Linked DNA regions of Homo sapiens. The protein of the gene in region 5 interacts with the protein of the main gene of each other region in a pairwise test. Each region holds a gene or a part of one and is shown on either strand. Other genes may lie near its edges. The genes, in order: CYLC2, MSANTD3, HEMGN, FBP2, MLH3, AOPEP and CDC14B.

Region 1 (3,979 bases), on a different chromosome or scaffold from region 5:
TTTACCACCTTTTAAAAATTATTTAATTCTTTGAGGCCTCTTGTTTTCTCACAAATTCAGCTGCAGACTACCACTATTGTTTCATCAAATATGCTTTTGAATTATTCTTTCGGTTCAAATTCTTATCCAAGGCCTACTTGCCCTTCTTCTTTGCATCCTTCTTTTCATCCTTCTTTGCATTCTTCTTTGCATCCTTCTTTGCATCCTTCTTAGCATTTTTCTTTGCATCCTTCTTTGAATCAGCAGATTCTTTCTCAGTATCTTTCTTGGCAACTTTCTTGGCATCTTTCGTGGCGTCCTTCTTAGACTCTTTCTTGACATCATCCTTTGAGTCACTGTCTGTACTACTGGGCTTCTTCTTATCTTTCTTACCTTTTTTAATCTCCTTTGCATCTTTCTTGGCATCCTTCGATTCATCACCTTTGTTTGCATCTTTTTTTCCATCCTCATCCTTCTTTTCATCTGCTTTTACAGCTTGTAATTCTATGGCTGAATCCTTGCCCTTCTTTGAATCCTTTTTACCTTTTTTGCTATCTTTCTCTGTACCTCCTTTTTCACCTTCAGATTCTGTTGCCGAGTCTTTGCCTTTGTTTGAATCCTTTTTATCTTTTTTGTTATCTTTCTTTGCACCTCCTTTTTCATCTTCAGATTCTGTTGCTGAGTCTTTGCCCTTCTCTGCATCCTTTTTACCTTTTTTGCTATCTTTCTTTGCATCTAGCTTTTCTTCTTTTCCTTTCTCTATATCCTTGCCTTTCTTTGAATCTTTTTTTCCTTGTTTTAATTCTGATTCCGAATCTGTTGTGTCCTTCTGTGTTGTCTTGTCTTCACCTTTCTTACCAATTTCTGGGGATAAATATTCAAATATTTCTTAAAATGGGAAAATCCAAACTTGATAAAATTCTAATAGAAATCTAATCAGAAAATTACAGAGATACTATAAAAACAGTAAGTTATCTCTACCTGCTGCTTTAGAATCCACCTCGACAGTACGAGTTGGTTTGAGAGGCTGCCTCCTGGCAGCTAAATAAACAGATGGTCTCTCAGAAATTCTCATTAAAGAACGGTACATCCATAATGGTTGTCTACGATCTCCTCTTAATTGTTCTTCATCAATTATCTGAAAGATGGTTACAATAATGATGAACAACTTGTGAGTGAATAACACAGTTTGTATTAATATATCCCAAATATATTTTAATTTCAACCATAAAAAGATTTTAGCTTTTGTTAAAAAATGGGGAAGTTTGAGATTTCATCCTTTATTTTGCTTTTTTATTGTCATCCTTTTTTTAAACTAGTGAATAATCATGCCTCATTTGGAGCTTACTTTCAGTTTATAGGATCTTCATAGCTCCCTCGGGATTTTAGGTTCAAATTGGTAGACTCATGGCATATCTTCACAATCATAGGAGGCTTTTTAAACTGTATGTTCTTGAGAATTCTTGGAATATCTTGCTCACCTTCTATTTCTAGGTAAATCAGAAACTATTCTCTAATATCTAATAGTTTCAGATTGAGGCATATCTTAGTCTATTTTCATTTTCAGAGTCTCTGGAATTTAGAATGCTACTCATGGTTAAAGATAAAAGCCTGAAACTCCTATTGCTTGGCAGATATAAATTGAGTATGATCAGATTGGTAACTGAAATAATGAAATCTACAACAGGGAATGTTAATTTGAGAGAAATTATGCATTTTGTTTTCAACTTCTAATTAAATATGTACAAAACTGAATGGCAAAAATAGCTAATCTCTGTACAAATATTAACAAAAATGGAAAAATAAATTCAGCAAGAAAAAAAGAACTTTGTTCACTACTAATGGGTTACATTTTTAAAAATAAACAAGTTAATGATACATTTATTTTGTGAAAACTTTTCTTTGAGCATATGCTTATCCCATGTTGACTCCAGAAATATTGCGAAATATTTATTTTCCAATACTCTGAGTCCTGAATTCTATATTACAGAACTGAGGAAGTATTAAAGGTATAGTGTAATCCCATGACTCAAATGAGGGATTTCTCCAGCTGTAGAACATTTCCTGAATGTTCACACTAACTCTAACATCAGGAACTCCATAATTTTGTGCTCCTTGGAAACAATTTTTACAATGTGTGGTTACTGAAAAAAATAGTTAATATGAAATAAAGGGGCAACTGTATACAGTAAAATGCAAATAAAACATATCTATTTTCTTTAAGTGGTAGACTTTGAATTATCTCTAACTGTGCTGTTCAGTAGGGCATTTCATAGCCACATGTGAATTTACTTTAATTCAATGTAATTTAAATGTAAAATTCAATTCCTTAGTTGCACTAGCCTCATTTCAAGTATTTAATAGCCTCATTGGACTACGGAGATAAATATTCCCATCATTGCAGAAACTTGTTGGTCAGCTTTGATCTATAACACATACAACTATACATGATTTCACAAGCTTACTACTTAGTGATTACTTAAGACTAATTATAATTACTTATTATGGTTATAATTATTACTAAGTTATTACTTATTACTGATAATTATAAAATCTTTCCAATGCTTACAGAAACCGTGTTGTCCCGTATTTGAGAAGGTTTTGATCTCCTTTTGGTTCCTGGCCGTTGTGGTTTGGGAAATAACAGGGCAAAGTGTTGCTGATTCCATGATTTTTTGCTTAATTCACTGACTAAAATAAGGGAGACAAAAAACACATTTTGGAGTGAATAGAATTCCATCAGAGCTGAAATGGCATTACGTGCAACGTATATCATGTAAATGAATAAACAAGTGATTCAAATTATGACTTCATTTATTTGGTAATGTTTGCAATTTTCTGTTATCAATATGAGAAAATAAAAATTGATTTTTCTATTTTGAGCAGTTTTACAGATGACTGTATAAAGTAGTCATTGCAAAACTAGCATAACTATAATATAAATGGAAAGACTCAGTTTTACTGCTTCCTTTTAAATCTATCTCTTCCAGTCTAGGTTTTTGCTTTATGCTTTTGGTTAGTATACAATTTTATTATAACAGAAAATAACTACTTCTGTAGCTCCCATAGTACTTAGCACAATGCCAGCATAAATATTCAGTAAATACATGATTTAATCTAAGTGCTAAGACTTAAGATCCCCTTAGTTAGTAACAACTTTCCAAGCTACAAGAGTAAATGCAGCCAGGCGCGGTGGCTCACGCCTGTAATCCCAGCACTTTGGGAAGCCGAGGTGGGCTGATCACGAGGTCAGGAGATCGAGACCATCCTGGCTAACACGGTGAAACCCCGTCTCTACTAAAAACCAGGTGTGGTGGCAGGCGCCTGTAGTCTCAGCTACTCAGGAGGCTGAGGCAGGAGAATGGTGTGAACCCAGGAGGCAGAGCTTGCAGTGAGCCCAGATCATGCCACTGCACTCCAGCTTGAGCGACAGAGCAAGACTCTGTCTCAAAAAAAAAAAAAAAAAAAAAAAAAAGGGGGCAAATGCTATACACCCAAGAATGGTATCGTTATAGGTGACATATTTTGTAAAGGAAAATGACAAAAAGCCTACAGAATGGTGACTGGGTAGGTGAAGTCATCTGAAAACTATAATACAAATGATTAAAGTTATTTAAGTTGCCAATGAGGCCAATGAGAGATTTCATCTTTGTATTTAGACACATGCAGCATTAATGTGTGGAAATAATAGACATTTCCTATGAGTTTTCTAAAGAAAATAGGAACAATGGGAAAAATGTACAGAAAAAAATTATATTTAGGCTCAGTATCTGAGGGGAAAATACTTGATATTTGAAGTTCTTCAAAATCAAATACCTTTGCCTTGTCTAGTAAAGAAATTTGGGGCCAATTATAAGCTGGTTATAATCTATCAGGAATGTTGTAGAAGAAATTCCTGACATAAACAAGAAGTTATTTATCCAATTTCTACATTGCTTTTCAACTGTAAGATTATCTGATTGTATGACTTCTAACATGTAACTATTTCCGGCTTTCATAT
Region 2 (3,979 bases), on a different chromosome or scaffold from region 5:
TTAACACTCTAATCATCAGCCGGGAAAGGGCCCAGGGTAGGGCAATTTAGGTGGAGTGTGTCTCCATCTGTTGGCTCTTCCCCCACTCATTTCCCTCCCTCCATCACCTCCTCTCGATTTCAAACTTAGGGCCCATAATCCTCCCACGTGTACCTTCCTCACTCTAACCAGAGCTCTGAAATAATTTCCGCCCTTGATCCAGTAAGACTGTATGTTTGGGCCAGGCATGGTGGTTCACACCTGTAATCCCAGCACTTTGGGAGGCCGAGGCAGGTGGATCACCTGAGGTCAGGAGTTCAAGACCAGCCTGGCCAATAAGGCGAAACCCCATCTCTACTAAAAATAAAAAAATTAGCCAGGCGTGGTAGCAGGTGCCTGTAATCCCAGCTACTCAGGAGGCTGAGGCAGGAGAATCATTTGAACCTGGGAGGCGGAGGTTGCAGTGAGCCAAAGTCGAGCCATTGCACTCCAGCCTGGGCAACAGAGTGAGACTCTGTCTCAAAAAGACTGTATGTTTGAAAGGTAACTGTGGAGATCTTTTGGAGCTTTAACATGGTCCATGCCTCCGGGGAATGCTGGCATTCCGCTTGAGCACAAAAACAAATACTTCCCAAAGAGGTCTCTCCAGCAAAGCTTATTAATGCTTATTAATAGAAACTTTGAGGCTAGAAAGGATACTCTTGTTTAAAACTATTCATCAATTGTCCATAATTGTTTATAAATGACAACATAAAAAGCGTTCCCTGCCGCATCAACTTTTATTAGGGATAGACTGGACTTCCCTGTCCCCAATTCTGCTCAGGAGCCATTATCTCTTGTGTCTGCTGTTCTGCTAGACAGTATATGATCCATTCTTATGCATGGTTGTAGGGCAACAAGCAGCCCAGTGACCCTCACAAAGTAGGCGCTCAGTAAACATTTCATAAATGCAGATATTTTGATATAGGCATAAAACAGCCCACCATGCACACAGCATCATACATGACAAAACAGTACACTAAAGGCTGCATTAGCTGGGTATGGTGGTGTGCCTGTAGTCCCAGCTCCTTGGGAGGCTGAGGCAGGGTGATCACTTGGGCCAAGGAGTTAGAGGCTACAGTGAGCTATGATTGTGCCTGTGAACAGTCACCCCACTTCAGCCTGGACAACACAGTGAGACCCCATCTCTTAATGAAAAAAAGCTGCATTAAAGTAGAAATGGTCAAATAAAATAGCAAAATCCAGATGCAACAGAAGTTCCCCTTGGGCTAGGCAAAGACCCATAGATAGGCCTAAATTAAAAGGCACAATTCCAACACCCATAGAAGAACAAGAAGGAAACAATTAGCACAATTTCCAAAACACTAACATTGACTAAACCACCAGAATACTGTAATGCATACATTTACTATCCAACTTAAAACAAAAATTCATCTGTTTATGGACTAAATGTCTGTGTCCTCCCAAGATCCATATGTTGAAGCCCTAATTCCCTAGTGGTTGTATTTGGGGACTGGGCATCTGAGGAAGCAATTAAGGTTAAATAAGGACATAAGTATGGGGCCCTGGTCCAGTGGGGTTAGTGCCTTGATAAGTAGAGACACCAGGAAGCTGGCGTGCCCTGCTACCCTCAATGGCTTACAAAGAGGAGGTCATGTAAGAACACAGCAAGATGGCACACAGCAAGATGGCCACCACCTACAAGCCAACAGAAGAGATCTCAGGATGAAATCTAACTTGCCAACACCTTGATCTTGGCCTTCTCAGCCTCTAGAACTGCAAGAATCCAATTTCTGTTGTTTCAACCACACAATCTGTGGTATTTTATTATGGTAGCCTGAGAAGACTAATATACCATCTAGTGATTTTTAAGTCCACCAAGGGTGAAACTAAGTCCTAAAGTTTGAGCAAAGACAGAGAAACTTGTCAAGATTTCACATCTCTTGCTCTTTGTGGAAAGGGGAGTTCTTTGAAGTTAATACTCAGAATGGGTACCATGACTGAAGAGCTATGGCACTGGAAAATCAGACTTCAGGACATTAATAGACTGCTGATCTTAAAGTGAGGTGAAATGAACCAAGACACTGGATGCAGAAAACCCGGGCTCAAATCCTGACTTTACCCCTCACCCAACCGTGTGACTTTGGGCAAGTCAATCAACCTCTAATGCTTCATCTGTGAAATGGAGTTACTCCCCCGCTATCCCGGCCCTGCCTCATTCCCTCTGCGCAAAAGTCCTGCAACGTGAATAAAGAAACACAGACTACAGCTTCAATCAATTTTAGTTCTTTCTACTCTTCCCACCCATATTAAACTGCTTCCAAAAGTAGAATAATACTGTGTGTGTGCGCACGTGTGTGTGTGTGTGTGTGTATGGTGTGTGTGTATATATAACAAGTTATTGGCTCTTTATTTCATACACACACAATTCAACAAATATGTAATGAACTCCTGCCAAAGGCTCAGCACTGTTCTAGAGTATGTGGGAGATACAAGGACAGGCTGAACCCTCCAGCCTAGAAAGAGCGCTGACATGCACAAACTGACAACTAAAATGAGAGGCACGCTGAAACAGACACCAGAAGAGAGGACAAAGCACCTTGAGCATGAAGAAGAGGGAAGAGGTTCACTTGCATTCTTCATGAACAAGAGGACATTTGAGCTAGATCTTTAAGAATGTATAGGATATGAATGGAGAGAGTTGAAGAAGATCATCAGATAAATAATTGATAAGAGAAGGCCTGGACTCTGAGTGGGGACAATGTTATTGGAAAGGAGGAAGTATACACCAAAGACTGTTTCTTTCTTTTTTGAGAGACAGAGTCTAGCTCTGTCGCCCAGGCTGGAGTAGAGTGGCGTGATCTCGGCTCACTGCAACCTCCGCCTCCTGGGTTCAAACAATACTCCTGCTTCAGCTTCCCAAGTAGCTAGGATTACAGGCACCCATCACCACACTCAGCTGATTTTTGTACTTTTAGAAAAGATGGGGTTTCACTCTATGTTGGCCAGGCTGATCTCAAACTCCTGACCTCAGGTGATCAGCCTGCCTCAGCCTCCCAGTGTTGGGATTAGGATTACAGGTGTGAGCCACCACACCCAGCCAAAGACTGTTTCAAAGGAAGAAATGAGCAGGATGTATATGTGTCCACAGTAGGGTAGGGGATCAACAGAAAGCAGAGGCAGGTAGGATATATGAGGATTAACCAAACACCTACTTTGTGCAGGCATCAGAGAGAATGGTATTCCTTAAGATCAAGGAGATCACAGACCTATGAGGACATCAGAGTCCCATGAAGACATAATGCACATGTATTGTGGGATAGGCTGGTGACGAGACAGTGTGATAAGCACAGTGACAGAGATGAGCCTAGGGACATACTCCAAAACTGGGGGGATCTAGAACAGGAACCTTAACTCCTACTTGAATAGACTGAAATTAGATTAGCTTGAGGACAAAGCAGGGCCACAACTCGGGAGGTAAAGACTTAACATATTCAGAAGTGGTGGGTGAACTGAAGGACACGTGGCAGCCCTCCCTACAAGCAAGGCCTGGAAAGTAATGGGCAATCCGTTTGCTCTAAAGAAAGGCTGTCTCCTACCCTAGTATCTTGCCTGTCTCCTGACTCAACATCTCAAAAATAACCTTTGTTTTAAACTACAAAGGACCTTGGCCAGGTGTGGTGATCACCATCTGTAATCACAGAACTTTGGGCCTAAGGCAGGAGGATTGCTTGAGCCCAGGGGTTCAAGACCAGCCTAGGCAACAATGGGAGAACTCCATTGCTATAAAAATTAAAATTAAAAGTACTAGCCAGGCAAGGTGGCATGTGCCTATAGCCCCAGCTACTAGGGTGGCTAAGACAGGAGAATCCCTTGAGCCCAGGAGGTTGAGGTTGCAGTGAGATATGATCATGCCACTGCATGCCAGCCAGGGTGACAGAGCAAGACCCTGTCTCCAAGAAAAAAAAGGTAGTATAATATAGAGGTTAAGGACATGGGC
Region 3 (3,979 bases), on a different chromosome or scaffold from region 5:
CTTGCTTGGAAGGGGAGCCCAAAGAGCCAAAAGTGCAGCATCCATCTAAGCCAAAGTGTCTCCACCTTGGCACTGCTGACACTGGGGGCAGGAGAACTTCCTGTTGTGTGGGGGGCTGGCTTGTGCACTGCAGATGTTTTGTAGCATTTTCTGGCCTCTAGATGCCAACAGCACCTTCCACCCCAGCTGTGACAACAAAATGTCTCCAAACATTGTCAAAAGTCTTCTGGGGTGGGGTTGGGGGAAGACAGGCAAAATCATCCCCAGTTGAGAACCACTAATTTAAGCAAAGCACTCTTCCTAAGAAAGGGCATTTTCCAATCCCCAAACCCCGCTGTGGACTGAGCACTGTCTGTTCTGCTACAACAGATGTTTCTATAACACCAAGTTCACATACGATTGATAAATAGGAGAATGATGTCAGTATAATGTGGGGGTTGTGTTGGTTCATGATTTTTTCCTAGTCAGAAGAAAGCAGAATAGTGGGAAGAGAATTAAAGCTTTCAGCTGGAAAGAAAAAGCCTTCAGCTTGGCTGTTGTATAAGCAGGATTCTTTTCAGCCAGCATCCAGGGTTCCCTCCTCAGAGAGGCACAACACCAGCCTTGCGCAGCTCTCCATCAAGTGGCAGCTTGCACTTCCCTCCTGTGCCCAACTTAACGGCAACCCCGCTGGCTCAGAGCTCAGGTCTCAGCAGCTTCAAGCCTGCAATTACACTATATTTGCATTTACTATCCCCTGAGGCAGCCTCCAGCCACAGTAAACTGCTTGTCTAGACCATCCAAGTTCTCTCTCCTGGTACCAATTATTGTTTTAGTTAGTGTTAAAATGTTGCAAGGGTTTTGAATCATTTGTCCCAAGCCTATTTGCCCCACCTCCATAACCACTGTAACTTTATAGAGGATGATTTTGCAGAAAGTGAGGTTTTTTTAGGAACACGTGTATCATTTTACAGTAGAAATATTTGTATTAGGGTCCTGTGGCAGGTCTATTGAAGATTATCCAATTAGCTCCCAAATTCCATACCACTAAGCAATCTTCCAATCATTACTTGGCTTCCCAAGTACTTATCTACAGAGACGGTGCATTTGTTTGGGAGCCCAGAACCCAGGTATTCTCCTCCCCTCCCCTCCCCCCTCCCCTCCCCTCCCCCTCCTCTCCCCCATCCCCTCCTCTCTCCTCCCCTCTCCTCTCCTTTTCTTTTTTCTCTTTCTCTCATTCATTCATTCATTCACTCGTTTTGAGACAGAGTCTCACTCTGCTGCCCAGGCTGGAGTGCAGTGGCACAATCTCGGCTCACTGCAACCTCTGCCTCCCAGGTTCAAGTGACTCTCCTGCCTCAGCTCCCAAGTAGCTGGGAATACAGGCACTGGCCACCACGCCCAGCTAGTTTTTGTATTTTTTAGTAGAGACGGGGTTTCGCCATGATGGCCAGGCTGGTCTGGAACTCCTGGCTTCAAGTGATTCGCCCACCTTGGCCTCCCAAAGTGCTGGGATTACAGGCGTGAGCCACTGTGCCCAGCCAGTCCAGGTATTTTCTACTATGTGACTTTGTATGTCTGTTCATTTAAAAATTGGTCTTTAGGTTTATATGTCAGTCTCCTTAAATCTGCTTGATGAGCTCTGCCCCTGATAAATGGAGGTAGTCTCAGTGTGCTAACAGAATCAGGTTTCTGGGCTTGCTGGGCTGAGGGTATTCACTCAAATGGATAACACCTTAGTGAGCCTCTTGGCAGCTGGCTGGACTTGCTCTGGTGATACATCTCTATAATGCTAAGGCCTGTGCCCTCTTTTCTCACTACAACACACCATACAGTGAAACTTTATTAGTTTCAGAGAGAGGCAGCAGAGTGCATGGTTATGAGCCTGGCTGTTAAAGCCAGAATGACTAGATTCGTAGCCTGGCTCCCCTACTTGGTAGCCAGAGCCCTTGGAAATATTATGGAAAATAAATAATTCTCATTATAAACGAATAGATTGGCACTCTGGTTTATATACTAGTCTCTTTGCATTTAGTCTGTGTGTATTACTTCACTACCCCTGAGTAAACTCATACTCAGGGTTTCTAGACCTGCAATCCAGGCACGGCTCCTTATCTGTGCAGCCTGCAGGTGGATAATGTATATGGCTTGATTATCAAATACAAGTGTTGGGCAAGTTACTCAACATCTCTGTGTTTCAGTTTTGTCATTTGCAAAATGAAAATAATAACTACCTACTTCATAGACTGATGTGAAGATTATATGAGATAACAAAATAACTAAATTATTTAAACGGTGCCTGACATATACAAGCACTATAAGTGTTTCCTGTATTCATATGAGTCCTAATTTATATTTGAATAATTCATTCATGTAAGTTATTATATATAATTCTTATAACCACCACATGAAATTGGGCCGATATTATTTACCTCATTTCACTTACAAGGAAACCAAGGCATGTAGAGGTTAAGTGACTTGCCCACAACCATGAGAGAGTACAGACTAAAGTTTAGGCCACATAGGTATTTTTTGCATTTTTTGAAAAACTACCTGGGAAGACATGGACTATTACATTACTCAGATCTCCTCATACAGAGATTTAAATAACAACTTCTTTAGGATTTAATATCTAGGAAAAAATATGTGTTTCCTAAGGAACTTGGATTACTATTAATATCTTTTTCAAAAAATTTATCAGAATTTTATGATTTATCTTGTCACCTTGGTTACTTGTAGTAATAGTTCAAAATGCTGAGGTGCCATAACCATCATCTTTAGATTTCCTTTTTTTTTTTTTTTTTGAGACAGAGTCTCATTCTGTCACCCAGGCTGGAGTGCAGTGGCACAATCTCAGCTCACTGCAACCTCCATCTCCTGGGTTCAAGCGATTCTCTTGCCTCAGCCTCCCAAGTAGCTGGGATTACAGACGCGCACCACCATGCCTGGCTAATTTTTGTATTTTTAGTAGAGACGGGGTTTCACTATGTTGGCCAGGCTGGTCTTGAACTCCTGATCTCGTGATCCACCAGCCTCGGCCTCCCAGAGTGCTGGGATTACAGGCGTGAGCCAACGCACCCGGCCTAGATTTCCTTTTTTAAATATAATTTTCAATATTATTTTAGACTGCTCTGTTACATCTATACCTTTTTTTCTTTTTTTCTATAGCCTCATATTAGAAGTGAACATATATACTTTTTTGGTATTGACTTCAAACTGTGTTTGGTGAGGTAATCTTTTAAAAACACTTTTTTACAACGGAAATTTCAAACATACACAAAAAATGGAACAGGGTATACTTTTTTTAAATATGCAAGGAACGATGGGCACTATAAAGATGTAAAAAACACTGGTTTTTATCTCCAAAGACTGTCTAAAATGTTTACTAAAAGAAATACAGTTTCTTCAGAAATAACTACAGTATGAGGCAGCCTACATTCCTTGCCTTTAGCATGGTACACCCAATAAGTCCTATAGGAGTGCTAAGCTGGGAGAGCATTTTAGTCCTGTAGTCTCTTAGAGAAGGCTCCATGGAGCGGGTAGCATGAAACAGAATTTCAGTAGATTTAGAAAAATGATGAAATGCTTATTTATAGTACTTCCCCCAGCCCCCAGCCCCCAGCCCATCTGTATTAGCCATCTGTATTTGGTTGTATTTGCAGTGCCTAACAATTTGTCACTGGCTGCAATTACCATGCATATCCTTTCATCTTCTAGATCTTTAATTTATTAATTAGGAATAGGTATAATATGGCCACTCATGCCTATCTACCTGACTTCTTAACTTCAAGAAGTGCTTTTGCAGCTTTTGACCCCTTACAGTATACCTCATTTGATATATACTGTAGCAACTTAGAATTCTTTACACAAAATAATGTATTTGATAATCAAGCCATATACAGCATCCACCTGCAGGCTGCACAGACGAGGAGCTGTGCCAGGTCTAGAAACTCGATTTGTATGAGTTTACTCAGGGGTAGGGAAGTAACACACAAAGACT
Region 4 (3,979 bases), on a different chromosome or scaffold from region 5:
TGAAGCCAGCTGGGCTCCTGAGTCTGGTGGGGACGTGGAGAGTCTTTATATCTAGCTCAGGGATTGTAAATACACCAATCAGCACCCTGTGTTTAGCTCAAGGTTTGTGAGTGCACCAATCGACACTCTGTATCTAGCTGCTCTGGTGGGGCCTTGGAGAACCTGTGTGTGGAAACTCTGTATCTAACTAATCTGATGGGGACGTGGAGAACCTTTGTATGTAGCTCAGGGATTGTAAACGCACCAATCAGCGCCCTGACAAAACAGGCCACTCGGCTCTACCAATCAGCAGGATGTGGGTGGGCCAGATAAGAGAATAAAAGCAGGCTGCCTAAACCAGCATCGGCAACCCGTTTGGGTCTCTTTCCACACTGTGGAGGCTTTGTTCTTTCGCTCTTGCTGCTGCTCACTCTTTGGGTCCACGCTGCTTTTATGATCTGTAACACTCACCGCGAAGATCTGCAGCTTCACTTCTGAGCCCAGTGAGACCACGAGCCCACTGGGAGGAACGAACAACTCCAGATGCGCCACCTTAAGAGCTGTAACACTCACCGCGAGGGTCCGCGGCTTCATTCTTGAAGTCAGTGAGACCAAGAACCTACCAATTCCGGACACACCACCACCCAGGCAGGGGACCGCAAGCCCCTGGCTCCTTTTGGGGAGATCTTTCTAGCAAGGGCTCCGTGAATGCAATTTAAAAGTTATGAGAGTCTCCTTTTCCCCTTCTCTTTCCTCTTCTTATGGTGGGAACAAGAGAGGCTGGAGTGCCCGCCTGGAGCCTCTCCTTGGCTTTCTCATGGCCGTGGGGGATCATTCCTTTAGAGACTGTTAGTTAGCTTTAGTGTCAGTCAGAACACTGCAAGATACTGTCCTACGGGCTAGAGAGCCCCTTTCCCCCATCATCTCAGGTGAAGCTATTGCCGGGAACTCACATCTCCTGGTGAGTTTCCATTCTTTCTAGGAGGAGGGGTGCTGCCCAGTGCCTGGAGAGAGGGTGCAGGGGGTCGGCTGAGGGGTGGGGTTAGGCGGATGAGGGGGCATTTGCAAAGCGCAGGACAGAGGCTGTTTCTCAGCTCTGCCCACCGCAGGCCTGGGCCTGCTGTTCATCCTCCAGTGGCAAGCGCATTCAGATTCCATATCGAACCAAGGCCTGTGTTTGTGGTCCCCTGAAACTCAGATGCAGTCAGCCTAGTTTTGTTGCTGCTGTTGCTTGCTTGCTTTTGTCTTGACCAGGAGGCACAGTCTTTGGGGTGAGGCTGCTAGGAGTGTTTTCCAAGACAGCTGACTGCTCACGTCATGGTTCCTCAGACACCAAATGATGTGCTGTGGGTGGGGGTTGGTGTTGGGGGGTGAGGTGGGGGTGCTGTTCAGGGAAGAGGGTGGGAAATGAGTTTGCCCCCAGCTTAAGGTAGATCAGTGGTTCTCAACCCTGGCTACCTGTTAGAACCACCTGAGATTTCCTTCAACAAATAAATAGCATTCACATCAGTAGGCAAAGGAAATTCCTTTCTTGCCATCCTTTCCTCATAACTCAGTGAGCAGACATGGAGCATGGGCTGTGTGTCTGGGCACTGCAGAAACAGACAGAAGGATGGATCCTGCCCTCTGCAAGCAGGTCATGCAGCAGGAAGCCAGTCCGTGAGTGTGGTGAACACTGAGGAGGGATGATGGGGTGTTTCTGGTGTGTGGGGCCCACTTGAGAGGACCAGGGAGGCGTCCCAGAGAGGAAAAGGAGGAATAGCAGGAAGAAAGCCGGGCAGAGAGCACTGCTGTGGTGGGAACACCATTAGTGAAGGCGAGAAGGACCAGAGCCGCTTGCTGGGTGCTGGCCCAGGGACATCTGCGGCTGTTGGAACGTGAGAGGGTGGCGGGGTGGCTGAGCCTTGCTGTAGTGGTGCAGGGTGGACACATGAAGGATACGGCTTCCCTCAGAATGGAAAAAAAAATCCTGCCATTGTGGAAGCTCACAGACAATAAACAGGACCTAGATGGTGGTCAGGGCAGAGGAGAAAATGCATCGAGTAAGATGTTGGGGACCAGGGAATGCTGCTCCAAACAGACGGCCAGAGAAGGCACTACTGAGAGATGATCCTTGAGCCAAAGCTTGACTGGGGTGGCCGTCACATGGCTCTTGAGGAAGAGTGTCCCAGGTGGGGCAGCAAGGCCACTGGGCAGTCAGTCACAAGGCAGGTGTGTGCCTTGGAGGTTTCAGAGGCTGGGGCTGACCCTGTGAGGATGAGAGAGACGGGCAGCCATGCCAACCCGGGCGCAGAGATTCCACGGTGGTGCCTGACACCCACTTGCGGGGACTTGGATTTTGCCTCTGGGTAAGACTGGGGGCACTTTAGGAGGACCCCTCCTGCTGGTGTGTTGAGAACCCCCTGAAGGGGCGAGGGTGGAAGTGGGGAGACCTTTGCATATGAATGCTCTAAAACCCAAAGCCTCTAGATAGAATTATTTTGAGGGTCTCCCTCCATCGCTCAGGCTGCAGTGCAGTGGCGTGATCACAGCTCACTGCAACCTCCACCTCCCCAGGCTTAGATGATCCTTTCATCTCAGCCTCCAAAGTAGCTGGGACTACAGGTGTGTGCCACCACATCCAGCTAATTTTTGTATTTTTTTGTAAAGACAGGGTCTCACTGTGTTGCCCAGACTGGTCTTGAACTCCTGGGCTCAAGCGACCTACACGCCTTGGCCTCCCACAGTGCTGGGATTACAGGCACGAGGCCCTGGCCCTGACTGGCATAGAATTCTCGTAGTAGCACTCTCTTATACTGCTTGGGATGGCAGTGAAGAAAAAAATGAAATAAGTCTGCCCCCACATTTCCTTCTCAGTTCAAGTAACACCAAGCTACCACAGGGCAATTTTAATTCATTCCAGCAGGGCACTGTGTGAGGACAATCCACAAAGACTTGAAATTCCAGGGCTTGGCCGGGCATGGTGGCTCATGCCTGTAATCCCAGCACTTTGGGAGGCTGAGGCGGGTGGATCACCAGGTCAGGAGATCAAGACCATCCTGGCTAACATGGTGAAACCCCGTCTCTACTAAAAATACAGAAAAAAATTAGCCGGGCGTGGTGGCGGGCGCCTGTAGTCCCAGCTACTCCGGAGGCTGAGGCAGGAGAACGGCGTGAGCCCAGGAGGCGGAGCTTGCAGTGAGCAGAGTTCGTGCCACTGCACTCCAGCCTGGGCGACAGAGCAAGACTCCGTTTCAAAAAAAAAAGGAAAAAAGAAAAAACAAATTCCAGGAGCTGGAGGCCACAGTCCTTTACTTTTGGAGTCCTCAGTTATGGCAATGGGTCTGATTTGATGAGTCCCCCCATCTGCTCCATCTCCTCGTGCTGAGACTGGGTTTGTGTTTTAGTGAGACTGAGTCCTGGGTCATCTCATTGGAAGGCTAAGAAAATATGACAACGACTCCAAGGTGTAAGGGAGGCAAGGCTGAGAGGTATCCTGCCAGGCATAATCGCCTTCTTCTGCACGTGTGACTTGGAGACTCCAGAGACACAGAACGAGAGGGGACTGCACTGCTGGCGTTTTAGGGTCCCAGGCTCTTTGCTGGAGTTAAGACCCCCTAGTGACTTCCTCATTCAGCCTTTTGTCTTCTCAGGTATGGAATCGCAGGAAGCGTTAACGTGACGGGAGATGAGGTGAAGAAACTGGATGTGCTATCCAATTCCCTGGTGATCAACATGGTCCAATCCTCCTATAGTACCTGCGTCCTGGTCTCAGAAGAGAATAAGGACGCCATCATCACCGCCAAGGAGAAGCGGGTGCGTCATGGGGCTGCGGTGCCCGCTCGCCAGTAGATGATGATACTGAGCCGGAAATAAGCTGCCTTACTTTTCTTTAATTCCCGGGATTCTCCTCTATTTCTTAACATTTGTTTTCTGGAAACAAAGGATTACATACTTCTCTACTTGGAAATCTTGTGCTGTCTAGAGAAAGAAGACTCCACAGTAGGACAGTGATTCATTC
Region 5 (3,979 bases):
ATCTCCTGACCTCAGGTGATCCACCTGCCTCGGCCTCCCAAAGTGGTGGGATTATAGGCGTGAGCCACTGCACCCAACCAATATAGCTTTTAGATCGTACCACAGGGCTACATTAGAGCCTGCACTAGGACTCTGGGTTCTCGGTCCACATTTAAAGTGATATTGCTTTGGCAGTGTGTTGAGAGCCAGATGTTGGGAGGTGATAAAGCTGATTTCCATCTGGCTATAATCTTGGCTTTGCACTAGGAGGATAAACATTACATCTGTATCCGTATTTAAAATTTTGAATGCTGCAGAAGAATGGAACATGTATAAATGTAGTTATAAGTCAATTTCTAATTTCTCCTGACGATGAATATCTCTAGCAGAAAGCTGTGGTTTCTTTAAGGTTAAATGAAACCTTTACTTTTCAGTGTTTTTCTGTTTTTCCTTGTGAAAAAAAAATCACTGTAGTAACTTCAGTAGTATTTCATAGTATTTTGTAGTATTCATTAGGAGAAAACTCATTTCTTTCACTGTTGTTCCTGAGACTATCAAGTTGCTCTTAAAGCCACTTTATGTGCTTTTCAATCTATGTGGTTTTATGTCCTGACTTACACTGAAGGCTTTTCAGAGGTAAATCTACAGCACTGACACCTCATCTTCCTGAAATGCAACTGCTTCTGATATGGTGCCAAAAAATAACTGGATTACATTATACTGTGAGATGGCTGTTGCTAAAAGAAAGGGGGAAATCTTAGCTGCCATATTCAACGTAAATATTTCTTCCTTTTGAATATAGACGTTTAAAACACTTTAACCTACTTAACATTCTGGATTAGCATACTTTTTTATGAACTTTTGAGGGTCATGTTAACTGATAGTTTCCTAATGAAAAATATTTTTGGTATAGAAAGAAGTTCCATGAACAGATGGCTCCTCAGTACCCTGCTACCTTTCTGGAAATGGCTGATATACATCATGACATCAGGACATTGTCAAACTTTACATAAAAGTGTTACATGAAATAAATTGTTAAAAGACAATTTTTTTTTTTTGAGACGGAGTTTCGCTCTTGTTGCCCAGGCTAAAGTGAAATGGTGCGATCTCGGCTCACTGCAACCTCCGCCTTCTGAGTTCAAGCGATTCTCCTGCCTCAGCCTCCTGAGTAGCTGGAATTACAGGCATGCGCCACCATGCCTGGCTAATTTTGTATTTTTAGTAGAGACGGGATTTCTCCATGTTGGTCAGGCTGGTCTCAAACTCCCAACCTCAGGTGATCTGCCCGCCTCGGCCTCCCAAAGTGCTGGGATTACAGGCGTGAGCCACCAGCCTAAAAGATACATTTTAATGTACAGAAGGAGGATCTATAAAGGTGATTTTGAGGAGTAGTGTCAAGTCCCCAAGCCTTGGTAATTTTTTCTTTAAAATATATTTTATGCAGTTCTTTCTATTGTAGTTATAAACCTTATTTCACTTCATTATCTTAATTTTATCATTCTTAACCTCTCCAGGTTTAGTCCAACAGATTTATCTCTCATGTTTTCCTCCTGTTCTAAAGCTGTCAAATTCAGCATTGTTTCTAAAACTCAAATCTGATTATCCTTCATGGAGAAGAACAGCATTTGGGCCAGATCTTACTAGACTCTGGAGTTTGAATTGAGAACCTTTCATTTGTCTACCTGTTCACTTTTTCATGCAGCATTTGTTGATCATCCACACTGTGCTAGGTGCTGTCACGTTGCAGGTTAACTGACTTTGCTTTTAGGAGTTCACAGTACTATTAGGGAAGATAGCTATCTAAATATAATTGTATTATAATGAGACAAATGTTAGGATAGAGACATACATTGGAGATAAGAGACATAAGTTGGAGATTTGTGAAGGTTGCACCAAGTTATGGCTGACAAGTACTGCTGTATGTCTAACACAGGGCTTCTCTGGGTAATTTTTTGTTGTAAGGTTTGTCCTATGCATTGTAGAATATTTAGCAGCATCCGTGGCCTTTATCTGCTAGATGCTAGTAGAACGTAGAACCCTTTACTCAAGTTGTGACAATGAAAAGTGTCTCAAGCCGGGCACAGTGGCTCACGCCTGTAATCCCAACACTTTGGGAGGCCGAGGCGGGTGGATCACAAGGTCAAGAGTTTGAGACCAGCCCGGCCAATATGGTGAAACCCCATGTCTACTAAAAATACAAAAAAATTAGCCGGGTGTGGTGACGCATGCCTGTAATCCCAGCTACTCGGGAGGCTGAGGCAGGAGAATTGCTTGAACCCGGGAGGCGGAAGTTGCAGTAAGCCGAGATCACGCCACTGTACTCCAGCCCGGGCGACAGAGCGAGACGCCGTCTCAAAAAAAAAAAAAAGGGTCTCAAGACATTGCCAATGTCCCCTCGTGCAAAATTGCCCCCCAGTGAGAATCACAGTGACCTATTCTAGGTCTTCATTCTGTCTGGTATGAATAGATAATGGAACTAAGCATTAATATAGAGTCCTATATGGACAGCATAATTTCATTAAAGGATTTCTGATTCTCAATCTAGTGTTTAGTAGTCTGCTTTATGTCTTGACTCAGTTTGTGCAGAAAGAGGTTTTATGTGATTAAATTTTTAAAGAGTTTACTTGTATTTTAAGTTCACATTTCTAGGTTTTTCTTTCTTATATTTAGGGTCTCAGTACAGGTGTCAACCTTTTAGAAGCGACCTTGTTCTTCCTTTCCTTCCGAGAGCTCGAGCAGAGAGGACTGTGATGAGACAGGATAACAGAGGTAAGGGTGGCAGAGAGTGCTGGGGCACACAGTACACATCGTACCACCTAACTCAAAAAACAAAGCAGGCTTGCATTAAGCTTGATCAGTGCCAGCTGTGCTGTACTGGAATCAGGAATTCCCCACGGCCCTGTTTAACAGCGGAACTAATTAATTCAGCGCATGCATTTAGGTCAGAAATTACTTTTCCAGACTTGAGGTCAATATTTGCTGATTATGCATAGTCTGTGGTGTCTTGTGATTAGGGGACATGTTTCTTATTTTTAAAAAGGCTGGACTTGCACTCCAAGTTGCTGTAGTTTTATGTAAGCAAAACTCTTCAAAAAAAGCTACAGACATCAATTTTGTGTGTATGTTTAAAAATAGATAAGGTATATTTTGCTTAAAGGCAGTAAGGCTATAAATTTGAGCCATAGCTTCTCTGTCAGTATTCCACAATATCTCTTTTAACAGTTTGGAGAAAAGCTGTAATGCCAGAAGATACAGTCACCAACTCTAGTTTAAAAAGTAACAGATCAAAATAATTTAGAGATACAGCAAACACTGAACATTTGTAGAACATAGAAACAATGTACGTGACCTTTGGTCTTGAGGCTATGGCTCACCAAACAGGAAATGCCATTCCCTCCTTTCCCTGTGGTTCTGGATGCCAACTTTACCTGTTCCCTTTTGCCCTAGATACTGTGGATGATACTGTTAGTAGCGAATCGCTTCAGTCTTTGTTCTCAGAATGGGACAATCCAGTATTTGCCCGTTATCCAGAGGTGGGTCTGTAGCAGTTTTTCTTTGCCTTTTTTTTTTCTTCTTCTTCTTCTTATTTTTTAAATTTTGAGATGGAGTTTTGCTCCTGTTGCCCAGACTGAAATGCAATGGCATGATCTCGGCTCACGTAACCTTCGCTTCCCAGGTTCAAGCAATTCTCCTGCCTCAGTCTCTCGAGCAGCTGGGATTACAGGCACCTGCCACCACGCCCAGCGAATTTTGTATTTTTAGTAGAGATGGGGTTTCTCCATATTGGTCAGGCTGGTCTCTAACTCCCAACCTCAGGTGATCTGCCCGCCTCAGCCTCCCAAAGTCCTGGGATTACAGGTGTGAGCCATCACGCCCAGCCTTTCTTTGCCTGTTATTTTAAACTTTGAGTTTCAAGATGGGTACAGTGGCATGCACTTATAGTCTCAGCTACTCAGGAGGCTGAGGTGGGAGGATCACTTGAGGCCAGAAGTTCAAGGCT
Region 6 (4,690 bases), on a different chromosome or scaffold from region 5:
GCTTCCTCTGACTCTATGGCAGTGGTTCTCAATTGGGGCTGATTTTGCCCCTCAGAAGACATTTGGCAACGTCTTGAGACATTTTTGATTATCACACTGGAGAGGTCTGCTACAGGCATCTAATAGGCAGAGACCAGAGATACTGCTAACATCCTACAATGCACAGGACAGCCCCCCACAGCAGAGAATTATAAATGTTTCAGAAGTAGAGACTCCCTGCTCTATGGTCTTCTTTTCTTTCTTTTTTTTTTTTTTTTAAAGACAGTGTCTCATCACTGTGTCTCCCAGGCTGGAGTGCAGTGGCGCCACCACAGCTCACTGCAGCCTCGACCTGCTGGGCTCAAGCTAATCCTTCCATCTCAGCCTCCCCCAAGTACCTGAGACTACAGGCATATGCCATCATGCCTGGCTAATTTTTGTATTTTTCGTAGTGGCAGGATTTCATCATGTTGCCCAGGCTGGTCTTGAACTCCTGGGCTCAAGGGATCCTCCTGCCTTGGGCTCCCAAGGTGCTGGGATGAGTGAGCCACAGTGCCCCCAGCCTCTATGGACATCTTTAGAATAACATAGTTCATTTCTTCAAACACTCTTGGAACATTTTAACCTCAAGTCTCTTGCTCTTTCATCCTTCTGACAGAACTTTTATAAAACCAAACCTTTAAGCAATGGAATCATCCACCTTCTGTACTTCTAAACTACTAAGCTCAACAAAAGCTGAATAAATATCACGATCACAAGAATATCTGACTCTAGATATTCATAGACTCCAACTTTGGTGGGACACCAACTTTCCTGGACAGGCAACCCTTCATGTTTCTCTCTAGTCTCCCCATCAAACCCTGTCCTTTTCCCTCAGTGATTATTCTAAACTTCTACCAACTTTCCTCAATCCCTATCCCAACAAATCAACGCAATGTCAGCAAATTCACCTGCTGCACTTAAGAACTTTTGCTCCATCACACAAGAACTTCCACACATTTCTTCCTCATCCCACACACTCACTCACGTCTGTGCCCACCCTTCTCCCCATCCCTCCCAGGAGAGTGGAAGAAGTGTCCCTCGTGCCCCGCATAGCCTGAAGGTGGCCTCTGCTCTGGAGATCGTCTTTTGGTGGCCTCTGGGACCTTGCTTCATCAATCATCCAGCCCTCTAAATCCTTGACCTCAGCATCTTCCTGTTTCCAAGCCCTTTCCACCTCACAAATGTGAATGTTCCAGTCTCTTCTTACAGGAAAAACCCACAAATGAACAAAACCCTCCCTTAAGTCCACATCTCCCTCTAACTCTTCTTTATCTCCTCACAGCCAAATTCCTTAGAAGAACTGTCCTCGACCGGGCACAGTGAGGTCAAAAATCTACTCGGCATCCTGAGTGTTTAAGAAGGCAAGAAATTGTGTAGTACATTTTTAAAATTTCCATCTCAAAGAGTCAATAAAATTTTCATTTCTAAAGAAGTATTAAGCTCTCAACTGTAAAATTACCCATTCCCTGAGGACTCCAAACAGCAGGGTTTTACTGCACAATCTTGTTTGCCATTTATCTCATTCTTAAAAATAAGGATGGTGTGTGTGTGTGTGTGTGTGTGTGTGTGTGTGCATGCGCGCACGCAGGAAGGATCACAAATTAAGCTTTCCAGGTGTTTTAACTCCAGGAATATGGGAACTTAACACAGTATTAAAGATATTAAAAAGTGTTAAATCATTTGTGTAGGTGAACAAACTCATAAAATTGTGTGCAACTATTGTAAAAAGCCTAAAATTTGAGCATTAGTAGAGTCCTTTAAGAAAAGTGCAGGCTTTGAAGTTATATTCAGACCTGAATTTAAATCTTGATTTTGCCATTTAGTTAACTGTGAATTTTTAGCAAGTCAATTTCATATAACCGAAACTCAATTTCCTTCTCTATAAATTGGGGGTAATAATTCCTAACTCACGAGGTGGTTGTATGAAGTAAGGAGAAAACATATGCAAAGTGTTGAACACAGTACCTGGGATAAAGCAGATGGGCCAACAGTAAGCAACTATTATTATACCCTAACCTTATTCTACTTTGTCCCCCAAATATTGGAAGAATCTAATCTTCCCAATTAGCAAGTCATTGGAAGGCTTCCCAGACTTATACGAAGCACAATATACACTATTCAAAAATGGAACAGACTAAAAGTATTTTAAAAATACAAAACCAAACAATCAATGAGATCAAGGATTTCAGAATTCTGCTTCTCGTCCCATATACTCAGCATCTATTCTGTCTGGTTTTGTAATAACCCATATTATTTCTTTATCAACCATATGAACCTTATTGTTGTTTTTTTGCGATCTAAACATCCCTAGCGGGTTATGTTACTTATTTTGAGGGCTACCTTTGCAAGGGTAATTGTCATCATTGCACGAAAACCAAAAAGAAATCAGGTACAAGGGGCATTTTATGCAATGCTATTAACTGTTCCATGCATCTCAACAGTGGATTGGATCCTAAGTGGATATTTTATTATCACAATAGATAATCATAATCACATTACTGTGCCACCCCCTCCCCGCCCATGCATGCGTTCATGAACAAAACTCCAGACTAACAGTATGAATGTTCTATAGGGACCCCAAAACTCAAAATGTGGTGCTCTCAGTAAAGATCCTCCGGGGGAAGAAGAGGCGGATGGGTTTCACTGCAAGTGGAAATGAATCGAATCGAAACTGTTCTGCCTACTTAAGACTGGAGATGAGCCCTGTGGGGCTAGAAGCCGAGACCGGCAGGTGACCGAGGGCCTGGAGGCAAGAGACGAAGGAGGAGGCACCCAGAGGCTGAGAAAGGTCTGTGCCGCCGGGGAGAAGACAGCCAGAGCCCGTGGCCACCTCTACAGCTGAGGTGGTAAGATGTGACCGCTCCGCCCAGTCCCCAGGATGGGTTTCAGCCCCAGGAGTCTGGGAGAACTGAGGAGGGGATGCGGGTCCTCGCTGGTCGAGCAAAAGTGAGGGTAAGGGAGGGTTCCCCGTCGCCTTCAGAACGGAATGATGCTGTCCCCGCCGCCATCCCGACGCCGGAGGAGAGGAAGGCAGGGACCCAACAGGGAGCGAACAGGTTACCTGTCTCAGCCGCGTCCCACGGGTCACCACTTCCGCAGACTCGGGGTTACTACGGGCTACCCCGGCACGCGCCGGGTGACGTCATCCACACGCGCCCGGGGCCGCATTCTGCCTGACCCGCCTTCCGCTAGGCCCGCCCCCTTAGGATGAGAGGGCGAGACCGCCCGGGGGAGATCTGCGCAGGCGCGGAGCTGCCGCGGTCATAGGAGGGCGCGAGCAGCTTGGCTGGCTAGGGCTTGTAGAGTTGCCCTGGTACCCTAGTATTCCTAATTGCAAAATCTTTATGAAGCTTAAGAAAAAAATCACCAGCCTGGGCAACCTGGGGAGGCCCCGTCTCTACAAAAAAATTAAAAAATTAGCCGAGTGTGGTGGCGTGCACCTGTGGTCCAGCTACTATGGAGGCTGAGGCAGGAGGATTGCTTAGGTCCAGGAGTTCGAGGCTGCAATGAGCTATGAACGTGCCACTACACTCCACCCTGAGCCACAGAGCAAGACCCTGTTTCAAATAAAATTTAAAAAAAGTTACTGAAATACAGATGTGCAATTTTATTCCTTAGCCTAGTCTCACCTCTGCTGCATGTGACTATTGTTCACATATTAATTCCACCACAATTTAAGGTCCTCCTGTGTGCCAGGCAAGCACCCTTAACAAAAGCTGGGGAAACAACCAGGAACAAGACAGACGCTGTGCCTTCCCTCATGGGGATTACTTTCTAGTTGAGAAAGCAAACATTAAATGTAGAAGGAAAGGCCGGGCGCGGTGGCTCACGCTTGTAATCCCAGCACTTTGGGAGGCCGAGGCAGGCGGATCACAAAGTCAGGAGATCGAGACCATCCTGGCTAACACGGTGAAACCCCGTCTCTACTAAAAATACAAAAAATTAGCCGGGCGAGGTGGTGGGCGCCTGTAGTCCCAGCTACTCGGGAGGCTGAGGCAGGAGAATGGCGGGAACCCCGGGGGGCGGAGCCTGCAGTGAGCCGAGATCGCGCCACTGCACTCCAACCTGGGCGACAGCGAGACTCCATCTCAAAAAAAAAAAAAAAAGTAGAAGGAAAATAAGTTGCTGAGAAATTAAAGGAAGACAGGTGACCTTTTGATTTGAGATGTCAAGAAAGTGCCCTCTGAAGAGGTTCAGTAAACTGAGAAGCAGCCAACTCTGTGGAGAGCTAAGGAAAGAACAGCCAAGAGAAGAATCTACATGTGAGCAAGCAATAGGGAAGGGGCAGAATGTGGTGCCTTGGAGAAAGTGAGAAAGTAGGTCATGGGAAGAACAGAGGATGAGATCAAGAAGGCAAGGAGAGTCCCCATCATGCACAGACTCTCTGGGTTCCTGTGAGGAATACGAGTTTATTCGAAGTGTAAGGGGAAACTAGTGAAGAGTTATCAACACGTAAGTGACAGGATCTAGTTTTATAACATCACCCTGCTAGCTGCTGTGTATACATGAAACTTTTGAGAAACAATTTAAAAGGATGCAAAGAGAAGAGTTGCTTTTGCAATGAGCAGGTAAGAAATGATAGAAATGGACAAATTTCAGGAATAATTCTGAGGTAGATGTGACAGACTTGGAGATGAGTTTAGATAAGGGAGATAAGGAAAAGAAAAGT
Region 7 (3,979 bases), on a different chromosome or scaffold from region 5:
AACCTAAACAGTTCCCTGTGTCACCACACAGCTTCATGGAGGTGAAGACGTTTGTGGTGTGCCCCTGCTACCCCCCAGCCCAGACCCTCCAATCTCTACAGTAGTAACAGGGGAGTTACTTAGTGCCTATATTATTCATTAATAGCACACAAAGGCATCACTACAAAAGGAACAAATACCAACTAGTGTTTTTAGCAGTTTTGCTTACATAGACAAAGTAACTTGTTTCAAATGTTTAATGTTTTAAGGACAAGCGCAAAAAAGGTGTTAATAACTTAGCTATATTCTGTAAGTTTAAGGTGCTAGTTAAATGTACGTTGTACTTTAGAAATGGACTGCTATCAGAGAAGTAAAGACAGGGTTGGCCCTAATGAATCCTACAATGTATTCTTACATCTTTGGTACATCACAGAAACAACTGAGTGTCATTATTAACTGAAATTGAAAAAACAGTTCAGTTAAACGTAAGAGTTTGAAATAATATTTACTTTGGACGTTGTGAAAAAGAATTCTCTGAGGATTCAAGATGCTGCCACATGAAGTGCTGCTGTTTGAGGAATCATCTCCCCAGTGCTGGGGAGCAAGTCTGCTCAAGGTAACTACAGCAGGGTAAGAAGACAGGAGGCTACAACTACTCTGGGCTGAAAAGGGCTTTAGCACAGTATCTTACTCATTCCCTATTTGGAGGATAAAGCTGTAGAATCAAATTATTTATTCTTTTTAAAATATATATACTATGTTAAAAAACATAGAACACACCTGTGGTTTTGCCTGGCTTATCTCTCCCTGGCCCTGTCCTATGTTTTTAAGAAATTTTGTGTGGTTGGGTGCCGTGGCTTACATCTGTAATCCCAGCACTTTGGGAGACTGAGGCAGGTAGATCCCTTGAGTGCAGGAGTTTGTGACCAGGCTGGGAAACATGGCGAAATCCCATCTCTACAAAAAAATTACAAAATTAGCTGGGCATGGTGGCACGTGCCTGTAGTCCCCGTTACTGGGAGGCTGAGGTGGGAGGATCACTTGAACCTGGGAGAGAGAATGCAGTGAGCCAAGATCGCACCACTGCACTCCAGCCTGGGCAGCAGAGTGAGACCCTGTCTCTAAAAAAGAAAGAAAGAAAAATAAAATAAAATAAAACTGTTAGAAAATAAATTTTTTTTTGGTCCGGCTGGTTTGATGGGGCTGACCCTATGCCCCAGGCTCCTGGGATGGCCAGAGAACTAAGGCTGGCCAGAGTATTCCTTAGCCCTGCCCTGCCAAAGAACACAGGCTGGTGCAGAGATGGGCACATGACGTAAGTCAGGCCAGTGAGAGGCATTCCTGGGCCTTCTGATGGAGCTAAGATTACACTTTTCTGATCATTTTGCCAAACTGGCAGGTCAAAGTTGCTGGTGGCCATCTTTATCACTACTGGAGAAGGCTGGCCTGAGAATAAAACTAACTTCAAGTCCAATTTCTGATTAAGTGTCTGAGCACCTGAAGGGGCATGCTAGAAGCCAATCCTATTCCTGGACTTTTAATTTATGTAATCCAGTAAATTTTTCCCTTTTTTTTGAGACAGAATCTTGCTCTGTCACCCAGGCTGGAGTGCAGTGGGGTGATCTTGGCTCACGGCAACCTCTGCCTCCCGGGTTCAAGTGATTCTCCTGCCTCAGCCTCCTGAGTAGCTGGGACTACAGGCGCCCACCACCACGCCTGGCTAACTTTTTGTATTTTAGAGATGAGGTTTCACCATGTTGCCCAGGCTGATCTCAAACTCCTGAGCTCAGGCAATCTGCCCCTCTAGGCCTCCCAAAGTGCTAGGATTACAGGCATGAGCCACTGCGCCTGGCAGATTTTTCCTTTTTTATTTAAGCTATTTGTGTTTACTTTCTGTAACTTGCAACCAGAAGTGTCCTGACAAACCGAAGGTTATGGCAAAAACAAAGATATTTTCCAGAGATAATTAGGTGTATAATGACTATTCATCTCATCTTATTCTATGCTAAGGGTTTTAAAAGCATCTCAATCACTGTGTGACAGCCATCAATACTAAAATACATTTAAACTAAACAGTATAAAGAACACACGGGGCACACTCATTCACTCTAGAATTGTGCATCAAATGCAGAAATTCCCACTGAGAATTGGGACAGGAGAAATAGGGATAAGAAGATGAAGACTTGACTTTTTTTCACTCTATACACGTCTAAAACAAAACAAGAATATTGCTTCTGTAAGTGAAATGGGTGATTAAGAAAGCTAAAAACAGGGCCGTGCACAGTGGCACACATCTGTGATCCTAGCACTTTGGGAGGCCAAGGTGGGAGAAGTGCTTGAGGCCAGGAGTTCAACTCTAGCCTGGGCAACAAAGTGAAACCCCATCTCTACAAAAATAAAAATTAAAAAATTAGCCTGGCATGGTGGTACATACCTGTGATTCCAGCTACTTGGGAGGCTGAAGAGAGAGGATCATTTAATCCCAGAAGTTCAAGGCTGCAGTGAGCCATGTATACCACTGCACTTCAGCCTAGGTAACAGAGCGAGACTTGGTCTCTCTCTTTTTTTTTCAATTTAAAAAAAGAAAAATTAAAAACAGGCAGAGAAATTTTGGTCAGAGTACAAACCATCAGAGGATAAGTAAATTCTGGAGATCTAATGTGTGTACTGTATGCTTGAAATCTGCTAGAGTACATCTCAGGTATTCTCATCACACACGCCAAAAGACTAAATTATGTGAGGTGATGAATATGTTAATTAGCTTGATTAGGTAATCATTTCATGGTGTATACATATATCAAAACATTACTTTGTACATCTTAAGTATATATAAGTTTTATTTGTCAATTATTCCCCTCAATAAAGCTGGGCGGGGGGAGGAAGAGTTGAAAACATGATCCTTGAAGACTTACTTCATAGTGTTCATATTCATCAAGGTTAAATGAGTTGAAATTAAGGAAGCCATACTGCATTGCCTAAAATCCAAAAGAAAGCTTTTAAGAACAAGGATGCAAATAAGAAAACAGTTTCCTATCCAATTTCAGAATACTAAATATCAGGGGCCCCCCAAGAAAGTATTGTCATGATCAGATTACTTTCCACTGAACAGCTTTCAAAGGAAGTGGGCGGCGTCTTCTAAGTGCTTCTTTTATATGGAAATTAATTATAACTATATGTAATAAGTTTGTTGTGTTTTGTTTGGATTTTGTTTGTGAGATGTGCTTTTTTATTTTCATTCACCAGTCATCCTATCCATGTATTGTTAAATAATCACGCCCTGAAAGTAATCCTCTTCTCTTACCAGATCACTACCACCCCTGGCTGAAAATTCAGAAGTTTAGGATTCAAATATAATGCACAACCCAATGGTCTCTACATCGATAAGAAAGAGGAGAGAATCCATGTGCTAGTTTATCCCAAACAAAACCCTCATACTTCATCCATATCTTCATTTTCAAATTCTTCCGAACAGTCTTTAATCAATGTTCCCTAAAGTAAACAGCTCTGACATCAACACTAAAATCAAAACTTTTGAGGAAAAAAAAGATATTCTTTCCATAGGAATAAAACAAAAAAAATTTCTGTCCTATCCTATAGCCTTACTCTGTGTGATAGCAGGCAGAGTATGATAACCAAAATAAGCAGAGTGTCTATTTTCTGAGACAAGGACAAACAGACCTAGCAGCCTCTGAGAAATATCCTCCTGGCTGCTGATCCCTGAGCCAAACAGGAGGGAAGCAAGAATTGCTGATCCACAAGGTATTCTTGGTTCAAAGAGGGGGCTTTTGTACACCCAGTTTTCAAAAGTAAACTACTGAAATACAAATGTAAAATAAGAAGGCTAGAATATCAACTAAAAAGGTCTTCATTTTATATAGTTATTTAAACACTAATCCCAAGACTAAGTCAATCACAAAATTTATTTCCTTGACTGCAATATATTTCATGATTTTGGACTACAGCTATTTCTAATAGAATGAAACAATAAAAAAAAGTAGTT

What was found.
Region 1: the proteins of MLH3 (region 5) and CYLC2 interact in a two-hybrid assay, tested with the Homo sapiens proteins (one large-scale study listed by BioGRID and IntAct).
Region 2: the proteins of MLH3 (region 5) and MSANTD3 interact in a two-hybrid assay, tested with the Homo sapiens proteins (one large-scale study listed by BioGRID and IntAct).
Region 3: the proteins of MLH3 (region 5) and HEMGN interact in a two-hybrid assay, tested with the Homo sapiens proteins (one large-scale study listed by BioGRID and IntAct).
Region 4: the proteins of MLH3 (region 5) and FBP2 interact in a two-hybrid assay, tested with the Homo sapiens proteins (one large-scale study listed by BioGRID and IntAct).
Region 6: the proteins of MLH3 (region 5) and AOPEP interact in a two-hybrid assay, tested with the Homo sapiens proteins (one large-scale study listed by BioGRID and IntAct).
Region 7: the proteins of MLH3 (region 5) and CDC14B interact in a two-hybrid assay, tested with the Homo sapiens proteins (one large-scale study listed by BioGRID and IntAct).

Annotation. Positions count from the first base shown.
Region 1 is NC_000009.12:103,001,833-103,005,811, reverse strand, and holds part of CYLC2 (cylicin-2), read right to left. Parts: intron 2,671-3,979; coding exon 2,549-2,670; intron 1,118-2,548; coding exon 961-1,117; intron 844-960; coding exon 134-843; 3' UTR 1-133. UniProt on the Homo sapiens protein: Plays a role in the establishment of normal sperm morphology during spermatogenesis. It is required for acrosome attachment to the nuclear envelope, and proper manchette elongation and disassembly.
Region 2 is NC_000009.12:100,433,344-100,437,322, reverse strand, and holds part of MSANTD3 (myb/SANT-like DNA-binding domain-containing protein 3), read right to left. Parts: intron 1-3,979.
Region 3 is NC_000009.12:97,931,608-97,935,586, reverse strand, and holds part of HEMGN (hemogen), read left to right. Parts: intron 1-3,979. UniProt on the Homo sapiens protein: Regulates the proliferation and differentiation of hematopoietic cells. Overexpression block the TPA-induced megakaryocytic differentiation in the K562 cell model. May also prevent cell apoptosis through the activation of the nuclear factor-kappa B (NF-kB).
Region 4 is NC_000009.12:94,587,102-94,591,080, reverse strand, and holds part of FBP2 (fructose-1,6-bisphosphatase isozyme 2), read left to right. Parts: intron 1-3,611; coding exon 3,612-3,774; intron 3,775-3,979.
Region 5 is NC_000014.9:75,041,148-75,045,126, reverse strand, and holds part of MLH3 (DNA mismatch repair protein Mlh3), read left to right. Parts: intron 1-2,649; coding exon 2,650-2,748; intron 2,749-3,426; coding exon 3,427-3,512; intron 3,513-3,979. UniProt on the Homo sapiens protein: Probably involved in the repair of mismatches in DNA.
Region 6 is NC_000009.12:94,725,144-94,729,833, reverse strand, and holds the start of AOPEP (aminopeptidase O), read right to left. Parts: upstream 3,136-4,690; 5' UTR 3,083-3,135; intron 1-3,082. UniProt on the Homo sapiens protein: Aminopeptidase which catalyzes the hydrolysis of amino acid residues from the N-terminus of peptide or protein substrates.
Region 7 is NC_000009.12:96,536,187-96,540,165, forward strand, and holds part of CDC14B (dual specificity protein phosphatase CDC14B), read right to left. Parts: intron 2,955-3,979; coding exon 2,892-2,954; intron 863-2,891; exon of another isoform or gene 760-862; intron 1-759.